2 separate regions of the Homo sapiens genome follow, and region 2 is linked to region 1. Evidence: fine-mapped expression QTL. Tissue or cell type: lymphoblastoid cells. Region 1 holds a variant in brackets; the other region holds the start of a gene. All regions are shown on one strand. Distances are from middle to middle.

The links. PIP is the estimated chance that this variant, and not a neighbour inherited with it, causes the effect.
Region 2: it holds the start of KLHL25, and the variant in region 1 is fine-mapped to the expression of KLHL25 in lymphoblastoid cells (GTEx, PIP 0.97).

What each region holds. Positions count from the first base shown.
Region 1 is chr15:84,930,002-84,934,214 of GRCh38, reverse strand. It overlaps SLC28A1 (solute carrier family 28 member 1), which reads right to left. Exons shown (of 19, transcript NM_004213.5): 13 at 940-1,070. Among named protein-coding and RNA genes, the nearest start is that of SLC28A1, 47 kb to the right of the region's middle. The variant G/C (reference allele first, on the strand shown) is at 2,129.
Region 2 is chr15:85,793,152-85,797,364 of GRCh38, reverse strand. KLHL25 (kelch like family member 25) reads left to right here and starts at 2,440. Exons shown (of 3, transcript NM_022480.4): 1 at 2,440-2,599. RefSeq lists silencers at 2,250-2,319, 2,470-2,769.

The sequences.
Region 1 (4,213 bases):
TAAGATGTGAGAACTGGAGTGCGCATTTTTGCAAATGCTATGGTCTGAATGTTTGTCCTTCGGAAACTCATTTTGAAACTTAATCCTCAATGTGGCAGTATTGACAGGTGGGGCCTTTAAGAGGTGATTGGGTCATGAGGGCTCTGCCCTCCTGAATGGATGAATCCATTCCTGAATGTTGGATTAATGGGATAATGGGTTATCATGGGAGTAGGACTGGTGGCTTTTTGTTTTGTTTTTGAGACGGAGTTTCGCTCTGTTGCCCAGGCTGGAGTACAGTGGTGCGATCTAGGCTTACTGCAACCTCCACCTCCCGGATTCAAGCAATTCTCGTGCCTCAGCCCCCTAAGTTGCTGGAATTACAGGCGTGAGCCTTTATGCCTGGCTAACTTTTGTATTTTAAATAGAGATGGGGTTTCACCATGTTGGCCAGGCTGGTCTTGAACTCCTGACCTTAAGTGATTTGCCTGCCTCAGCCTCCCAAAGTGCTGGGATTACAGGCATGAACCATCGCACCTGGACTTGACTGGTGGCTTCTTAAGAAGAAGAAGAGAGATCTGAGCTAGCATGCTCAGTTCCCTGCCTGGCACCCCTCAACCCCTCGCCATGTGATGCCCTGTGCCAACTTGGGACTCTGCAGAATCCCCAGCAGCAAGAAGGCTCTCGCCAGATACAACCCCTCGACCTTGGACTTCTCAGCCTCCATAACTGTAAGAAATAAATTCTTATTCTTTATAAAGTACCCAGTTTCAGGATTTCTGTTATAAGCAACAGAAAATGGACTAAGACAGCAAATGAAGCCCAAACCAGAGCAGGAAAAGTGGAGAGATGGGCCCAGGCTAGTGGAAGACAGTGATGGACAGAGAGAACGGGACCCTCTGCTTTGCTCCCCCCACCTTGTACCACTACCCTGTCTGCAGGACCTCCTGCTGTGCTCACCCATAGGTCAGTTTCACTCCTTCCTCCCTCCTAAACTTGGACTCCTCCACCTCCGGGTAGACCAGCTTGGAGAGGGCCAAGGCACAAGGGGCAGCCATCACAGAGGCTGCAATCAACGAGGTGGCATCGATCTGCAAGAGTGAGAGTGCAGGTTCTAGGTGGACAGTCAGAAGAAATGCTGGCGACCAAGGAGTGCGGCCCAGGGCAGCAAGGGCACATGTGTAGTCTGTCCCACTGATATGTCCTCATTGTCATAACTGCTGTCATCACTAATAATAATAATACCTTTTATGTGTAGAAGGTCACAGGCTATATGTATAGGACCTTCTATTTCTTCCTGGTGCTCCCTAAGTTAGGAATGACAAATATTGTTATCTTCATTTTACAGACAAGAAAACTGAGACTCCAAAGGATTAAATATGGCTTCCCAAAATAAAGGAAGAGAAGGAATTAGAGCCTATCACATCTTTTGGCTCCAAGTTCAAGGTTCTTTCTTCCTTTTTAGGCTGTCACTGTTGACCACTAATCCCCGTTAGCTGAGGTTTCCCCCTTAGTGGAGGAATTTGTAATGCTTTCAGACAAAGCTCTAGAACCTAAGAGTTGAAATGAAATGGATTTAAGAGCTAAACCAATTCCACCTTAGTGTAGGTATGTACTAGCGTAGGAAGGTACTCCCTCTCTAGGCTCTCTCTTTGAATGCTTACTGTGACGGGGAACTCACCACTGCAAGCCAACCCATCACATCCAGTCCTGCAGTTTGAGAACTCCTTCTCAGGAAATCTGCCTCTATGACAGCCACCGTTTGACCCTCAGTCTCCTTCTGGGAGCCACGCTGTGAAAACCACTCCCAGCAAGATGGCAGAGCAATGTCAGCCCCTGGGATTCTCCCTTCCTGAAGTTTTATCTTCACTGGGACCCCAAACCCTTTGCTTCTCTGTTCTTTTCCACAGAGAAATATGACACGTTTCCCCCTATCACTGTGTCATTTACCAAGCAGGGAAATCAGAACCAACTCAGACATCTAACAATGGGAGACCGGCTAAGCGTCGTCAGGCTGTCATTGAAAATGATGGTCATCAAGGCCTCACAGTGAAGTGGGAAAGGGCCCACAACATTGCAGGTAGAGAAGAACCAAAACTAGGGGCAGTGGGGAAACAAACTCCAAAATGGCGCATGAAAAGATTAGAAA[G/C]AAATACACCAAAATGGCAATGAATTGACTGTCCCTGGCTGCTGGGGCCAGGGGTGATTTTCTTTCTTGCTTTATTTTTTTTTCCAAGACAGAGTCTTGCTCTGTTGCCCAGGCTGGAGTGCAGCGGTACAATCTTGGCTCACTGTAACCTCCGCCTCCTGGGTTTAAGCAATTCTCCTCCCTCAGCCTCCAGAGTAGCTGGGGTTACAGGTGTGCACCACCACGCCCGGCTAATTTTTGTATTTTTAGTAGAGATGGCGTTTCACCGTGTTGGCCAGGCTAGTCTCGAACTCCTGACCTCGTGATCTGCCCACCTGGGCCTCCCAAAGTGCTGGGATTACAGGCATGAGCCACCATCCCCGGCCGATTTTCTTTTCTTTCTGCATTTTGGTATCTTTCTTTTCTTTCATTTTTTTTTTTTTTTTTTTTTTTTTTGAGATGGAGTCTCACTCTGTCGCCCAGTCTGGAGTGTAGTGGCGCCATCTTGGCTCACTGCAAACTCTACCTCCCAGGTTCACACCATTCTCCTGCCTCAGCCTCCCAAGTAGCTGGGACTACAGGCGCCCACCACCACGCCCAGCTAATTTTTTTTTTTTGTATTTTCAGTAAAGACGGGGTTTCACTGTGTTAGCCAGGATGGTCTCAATCTCCTGACCTTGTGATCTGCCTGCCTTGGCCTCCCAAAGTGCTGGGATTACAGGTGTTTTGGTATCTCTCAAAATGTCCACAACAATATTTTTTTTAATAAACAAAAAGCAAAATAGATGTTTCTTCTTAAAGTTTGTAATAAGCCAACTGCATTCTAAAGTGTTAAATAAAAATAAAAAGGAGGAGGGAGGTAAGTTGAAGACAGACACTCAGGCTGATAAAAGCAGAGGGCAGGCCAGGCACAGTGGCTCACGCCTGTAATCCCAGCATTTTGGGAGGCCAAGGCGGGCAGATCACTTGAGGTCAGGAGTTTGAGACCAGCCTAGCCAACATGGTGAAACCCCATCTCTACTAAGAATACAAAAATTAGGCCGGGCGTGGGGCTCACACCTGTTATCCTAGCACTTTGGGAGGCCGAGGTGGGAGGATCACAAGGTCAGGAGTTCGAGACCAGTCTGGCCAACTTAGTGAAACCCCCATCTCTAATAAAAATAGAGAAAAATTATCCGGGTGTGGTGGTGTGTGCCTGTAATCCCAGCTACTCGGGAGGCTGAGGCAGGAGAATCACTTAAACCCAGGAGGCGGAGGTTGCAATGAGCCGAGATCGCACTATTGCACTCCAGCCCAGGCAATAGTGCGAGACTCCATCTCAAAAAAAAACAAAAATTAGCCTGGTGTGGTGGTGGGTGCCTGTAATCCTAGCTATTTGGGAGGCTGAGGCACGAGAATGGGTAGAACCCAGGAGGCAGAGGTTGCAGTGAGCTGAGCACTCCAGCCCGGGCGACAGAGTGAGACTCCATCTCAAAAAAAAAAAAAAAAAAAAAGCAGAGGGCAGATCGTGGGCACCCCTCATTACCATCTCAGGGAAGTGCCAGGCCTGCTGCTGAGAAGCCAGGCTGGAGACCCTCTCAGGCTCTGAATCCCAGGTATTGTGTCCTTCTTCTTTTTCTAAACCCCAGTTGTTTCTTTTTAAAGATCGACAAAACTTCTTAAAATGTGAACAAGAATTGGCAGCAGCCTGATACCTCCCCAGGGCCCTGTGTGGACACTGGGTGTGCAAGCCTGGGCCCCTGCCCCTTGCTGGATGAAACCCACTTGGGGCAGGTGTCCTCTCTGGACTTTCTGGGCTGGGCTTTGGGACTTCCCCTGCTTCCTCCTCAGTTGCTCAGCCCCAGCTGGGATGGTGCCACACCTGGAATCTTGGGATTTTCCCTCCACCAGGCAGGACCCTGACCCTTCCTCTGACTTGTAGATTACATCTGGTTTGTAAACCTGAGTCACGGCAGAGAACACACCCTGCAGTTGTCACATTCCTGCACACTGTCCCCTGGGTGACCCAGTTGTGGTCACAGCCTCAAATGCTGCAGTTGCTAGTTTCCAGCTCATCATGGAAAGGGCTGAGTCCTGCACAGGCAGGGCTCCCTGGGCACTGGGCCA
Region 2 (4,213 bases), 860 kb before region 1:
TCCCAGAGCTCCCTGCACAGCAGGTGGACTAGCTAAGCAGGCCATTACAACACTGGCTGGTAAGGGCTGCGTTGACGGTAATGCTCCAGGGTCCGCAATAGATGGCAAGGCAAACTTCCGCTCTTCCTCTCATCTTCTTTCAAATCGTACCTAAATTCGATTAACTCCACACGTGTTCTTAGTCTGATTTTGTCCCATTGCTTACACTGTATTTGATTTTAATATATTCTAGTACCTAATTTAAGCCTTGGAGTTGAAGAGAGAAAAAATTATAATGTGGACCAGATTTTACTGGGCGGTTGGCACTTATAATTTTACAGCGAACCTGCATAAAATAATAAGCAACAGTTATAAACTTGCCAAGAATCAATTTTGCATGTGGAGCTTCATTCAACCAACAATTCTATAAACACTCTAGTGCTAGAAAATCGGCAGGATAAAACTACAAATGTGATCTCTGTCATTTCCTTAATGAAGTAATTACTTTGATGCTAATGTGTTGGAGCTGGTTCCTTCCGGTGGGTTGGTGGTCTCGCTGACTTCAGGAATGAAGCTGCGGACCTTCACGGTGAGTGTTACAGCTCTTAGAGGTGGCGTGAACCCAAAGAGTGAGCAGCAGAAAAATTTACCGTGGAGAGCGAAAGAACAAAGCCCCCACAGCGCCAAAGGGGACCCAAGTGGGTTGCTGCTCCTGGCTGGGGGGCGGCCAGCTTTTATTAGCTTATTTGTCCAGGCCCATGTGCTGCTGATTGGTCCATTTTACAGAGTGCTGATTGGTCCGTTTTACAAACCTCTAGCTAGCCACAGAGTGCTGATTGGTGCATTTCTACAGAGCACTAATTGGTACATTTTACAAACCTCTAGCTAGATACAGAGCGCTGATTGGTGCATTTTACAATCCTCTTGTAAGACAGAAAAGTTCTCCAAGTCCCCACTGGACCCAGAAAGTCCAGCTGGCTTCACCTCTCACTACCTTTTCTCTTCAGAAGGCACCTTAACAGTGCACTTGGCAAGCTTCTTACCTCTGGCCAATATTGTTCATAAATATCAGAACCCTGGTGCCTTAGATGTCTGCAGATCTGGGCCAAATGGAAGCACAAATCTGTACTGAGCACTTACTACATGCCAGGCCTATTCCATATGTTATCTTAATCTTTCCCATACCCCTGCAAGAAAGGTTTTAGAATCCTCTTCACCAGTAAGAACCAGACACCAGAGAGTCTGAGCCATCTGCTTCAGTCCTACCCAGCTCTTGAGGGGCAGGGCGGGGCTTCAAACCCAGAACATCAAGCTGTTTCCCAAAAATGCCTTCCCTGGTGGTATCTTCTCATCATCTCCCAGTCTTTTAACCCTGGCATATCTGTCCTGTCTAAGCAGCTTTCTACCCAGGGGCTCTATTTCCCAGGTTCCACTAGTCACAATCCTATCCCCTCTCCCAAATCTTTGTACACTTTCTTAGACCTTCCTTGCACCTCCCACCTCCACCTCCGTCAGGGTGACCTCTGCTTCCTGGGAATTTCCCCGCCCCAGGCTTGGCTCTTTCGTTCTTATCACTTTCTATGCTTTACCTTTTGTATCCTTAAGCAACCTACTTGAATTATCGATTTTCATTGGGAGGGAGAAAAGAGAGGACATTTATTGCGCACTCATTTGTCTGGGAATTTGTCTCCTTTAATCCCCCAAATAATCCGATGAGGAGTTTTTATCTGCCGCTTTACGGATGAGATTGGACACACACAGTAAGCTGAAGTAGTAGTCAGGAGGGAAAAGGACGAAGAATCACAAACCGTTCTCCCCCTCCAAGATGAGTGCATGGTGTGGGCGTCCAGGAAACGTTCCTGGAAGAAATTATTGGATGGATGGATGAATGAATGAATGAACGAACATTTAAAGGCTGGCTTACGAAAGGAGTTTAGTGAGAAATGACACAGAGAGGAGAGCTGAAATACTCCAAAAAATACAGATTTCAAGTACAGGTGGGGTTTGGAGGCTGCAGAAAGTCCCAAACATTCAAACAAGCCCAGAGTGAAAGACAGGGTTTCATTAACACTCGGGCAACTACTAGTGTGGCTCTGAAGAGTCTAAAGAGATCTACAACACTTGTGACCCGAACACAAAAGAGGCATATGCAATCTACAGTGCTCCCTCTGGAAAGCTCTAGAACACCGTCGCGTTTTGTTCCCAAACTTGGGCGGCGGGGTTGGGCAGGCGCCTGTCTCTTTAAGAATCTGGTCGAAGTCCTTTTCCTCGCCCCGCCCCGCCCCCGGTCCCCCCCCCTCCCCGCCCCCGGCCCCCCACCCCCCGGTGCCGGCGCGGCCTGGGGCCCACCCCCTTCTTTTCTGCGGCTGCACTGAAGGGTTCGGCTGCCCATCCGTCACAGAGGCGATGCCTCTGATTGGCTGCTGCTCTTCGGGCCGGGAGGCGGGGCGGGAAGGCCGGAGAAACTAGTTTGTTGGCGGCGCCTAGGCTGTATCGCAGCGAGAGCGTTTTTGCCTGTGGAGAGCCGGCCGACGGGAGCCGCGGCGGAGCCTGTTGAGCTCGCGCGGGCTGCCGGGAGTGGTCTCTGAGGCGGCGGCGGCGGCGGGGATCGTCTCCGGCAGTGAGTATCCAGGCCGGGCGGGGACGCCGTGCTCTGGCCGCAGCACCCGCGCCCCCGCTCCCTGCGCTGGGGACTCACCACCCCGGGCCGGGCCGGGACCAAGCGCTCGGAGCCCCCGCGGGACTACGTGTCCCGGGAGGGGGCCCCGCGGCTGGGGCCGGGGCCCTGGGACAATGGTGGGGAGCGGCGGCCGGCCGGCACCCCGCGGCTCCGCGAGGGAATTCGCCGAGAGCTCTGCGCGAGGGAATGAATTGTTTGGCAAATGGATGTTGCGCGCGGGAGCCGCTACTCTTTCCCCAGGGAGTGGTTGATTCATTGAGTCCGCAGACTCTTTTTTTTAAAAAATTACTATTGATCCTGGAAAGAGAGACTGCTTGTCTTTGAGGACGCGAGCGGCGATGCCCCGCGCCTTGGACGCCCAGGCCGGATGGCTGCCTGCCTGGCGCAGAGCGAGGGCCCGGGGTTCACAAGGGGAGGGTTTGCGCGGGCCTGGCCGCGGAGCCCCGAGCCGTTCACGTTCCGCCTGCCAGGGTCCCTCGTTTCGGTTTGCAGAACTGTCCAGCGGCAGAGAAAGGTCGCACTCAAAGGCACACCCACCTGTCCACCTGGGTGGCGGCCAGACTGGCAGGTCCAGAGCAAGCCCTCTAGCCTGACTCTAATTACCACACTTGCCCTGGCTCCGAGACACACCGCGCGATGTTACGCCCCCACTCCCCCTGTCTCTTTCGTAGTTGCTTTAGAAGCTTTTCTCTTGGGGGATTGTGCCCGGGAGATACCAGATACTTTTTTTGTGTTGCTGCTCTAAGCCCCCAAAGTGCATTCCCATTGTCTTTGAACAAAGAAACATCTCTCTAGAGGCCTGACCCAACGAACTGTGGGTGAGGGGGCGGACCCAGGCCCCTGCAGATTTAATCTGGACGCTCTTGGGTCCTGCTGGATCCCGGTGAATTTGACCTTGGGGAAGGCGGGCTGGACTTTGACTCTCCTCGGTAGTCAGGGCAGAGAATGCCAGGTGTCTGGACCATTTGGTTCCACTCTATCGGCCCAATAGAGAGAGGAAGGGAAGGAAGTTAGCAGTAGCACCAGGAGAGGAGGCAGGATTCCACGGTCTGTATCCTGGACCAGATTCCAGTGACCGTTATGGGGCCAAGCCCTCTGGGACCCTGGGTCCCAGTCTCCCCATTCATAGGAGGAACTGATGCTCAGTGTGCTGATCTGAGCTGTGAGGATTCCTGGCATGTTGGTGAAGGCTTGCGTGGGGGTCTGGGGAAGAGTAGGACACAAAGTCTACCCCACCTCAGGGTCCATTTGGTGTCCCAAGACCGGAGGCTCTTGGGTCCACAAGCTGTGCCTGTGAAGGTTGACGTAGTCAGTCTTTTTCCGGCCTGGCAGCTATTTCAGTTTTGAGTCATTTGTCAGGCAGTGACTCCAGGGTGGTTGATAAAAGGGAGGTAGAAATGGAAGACACCTTCATCCTGGGGTCTTGGGCTGCAGTTGGATTTATGTATGTGGTGCGGAGAGAAGAGCTATAGGCAAATTGCATGCTCCACATCGGAAGCAGGTTCTGCAGCCCGATGCCCCTTAATAGCGTTTTAAATCTGCGGGCACCCCGTG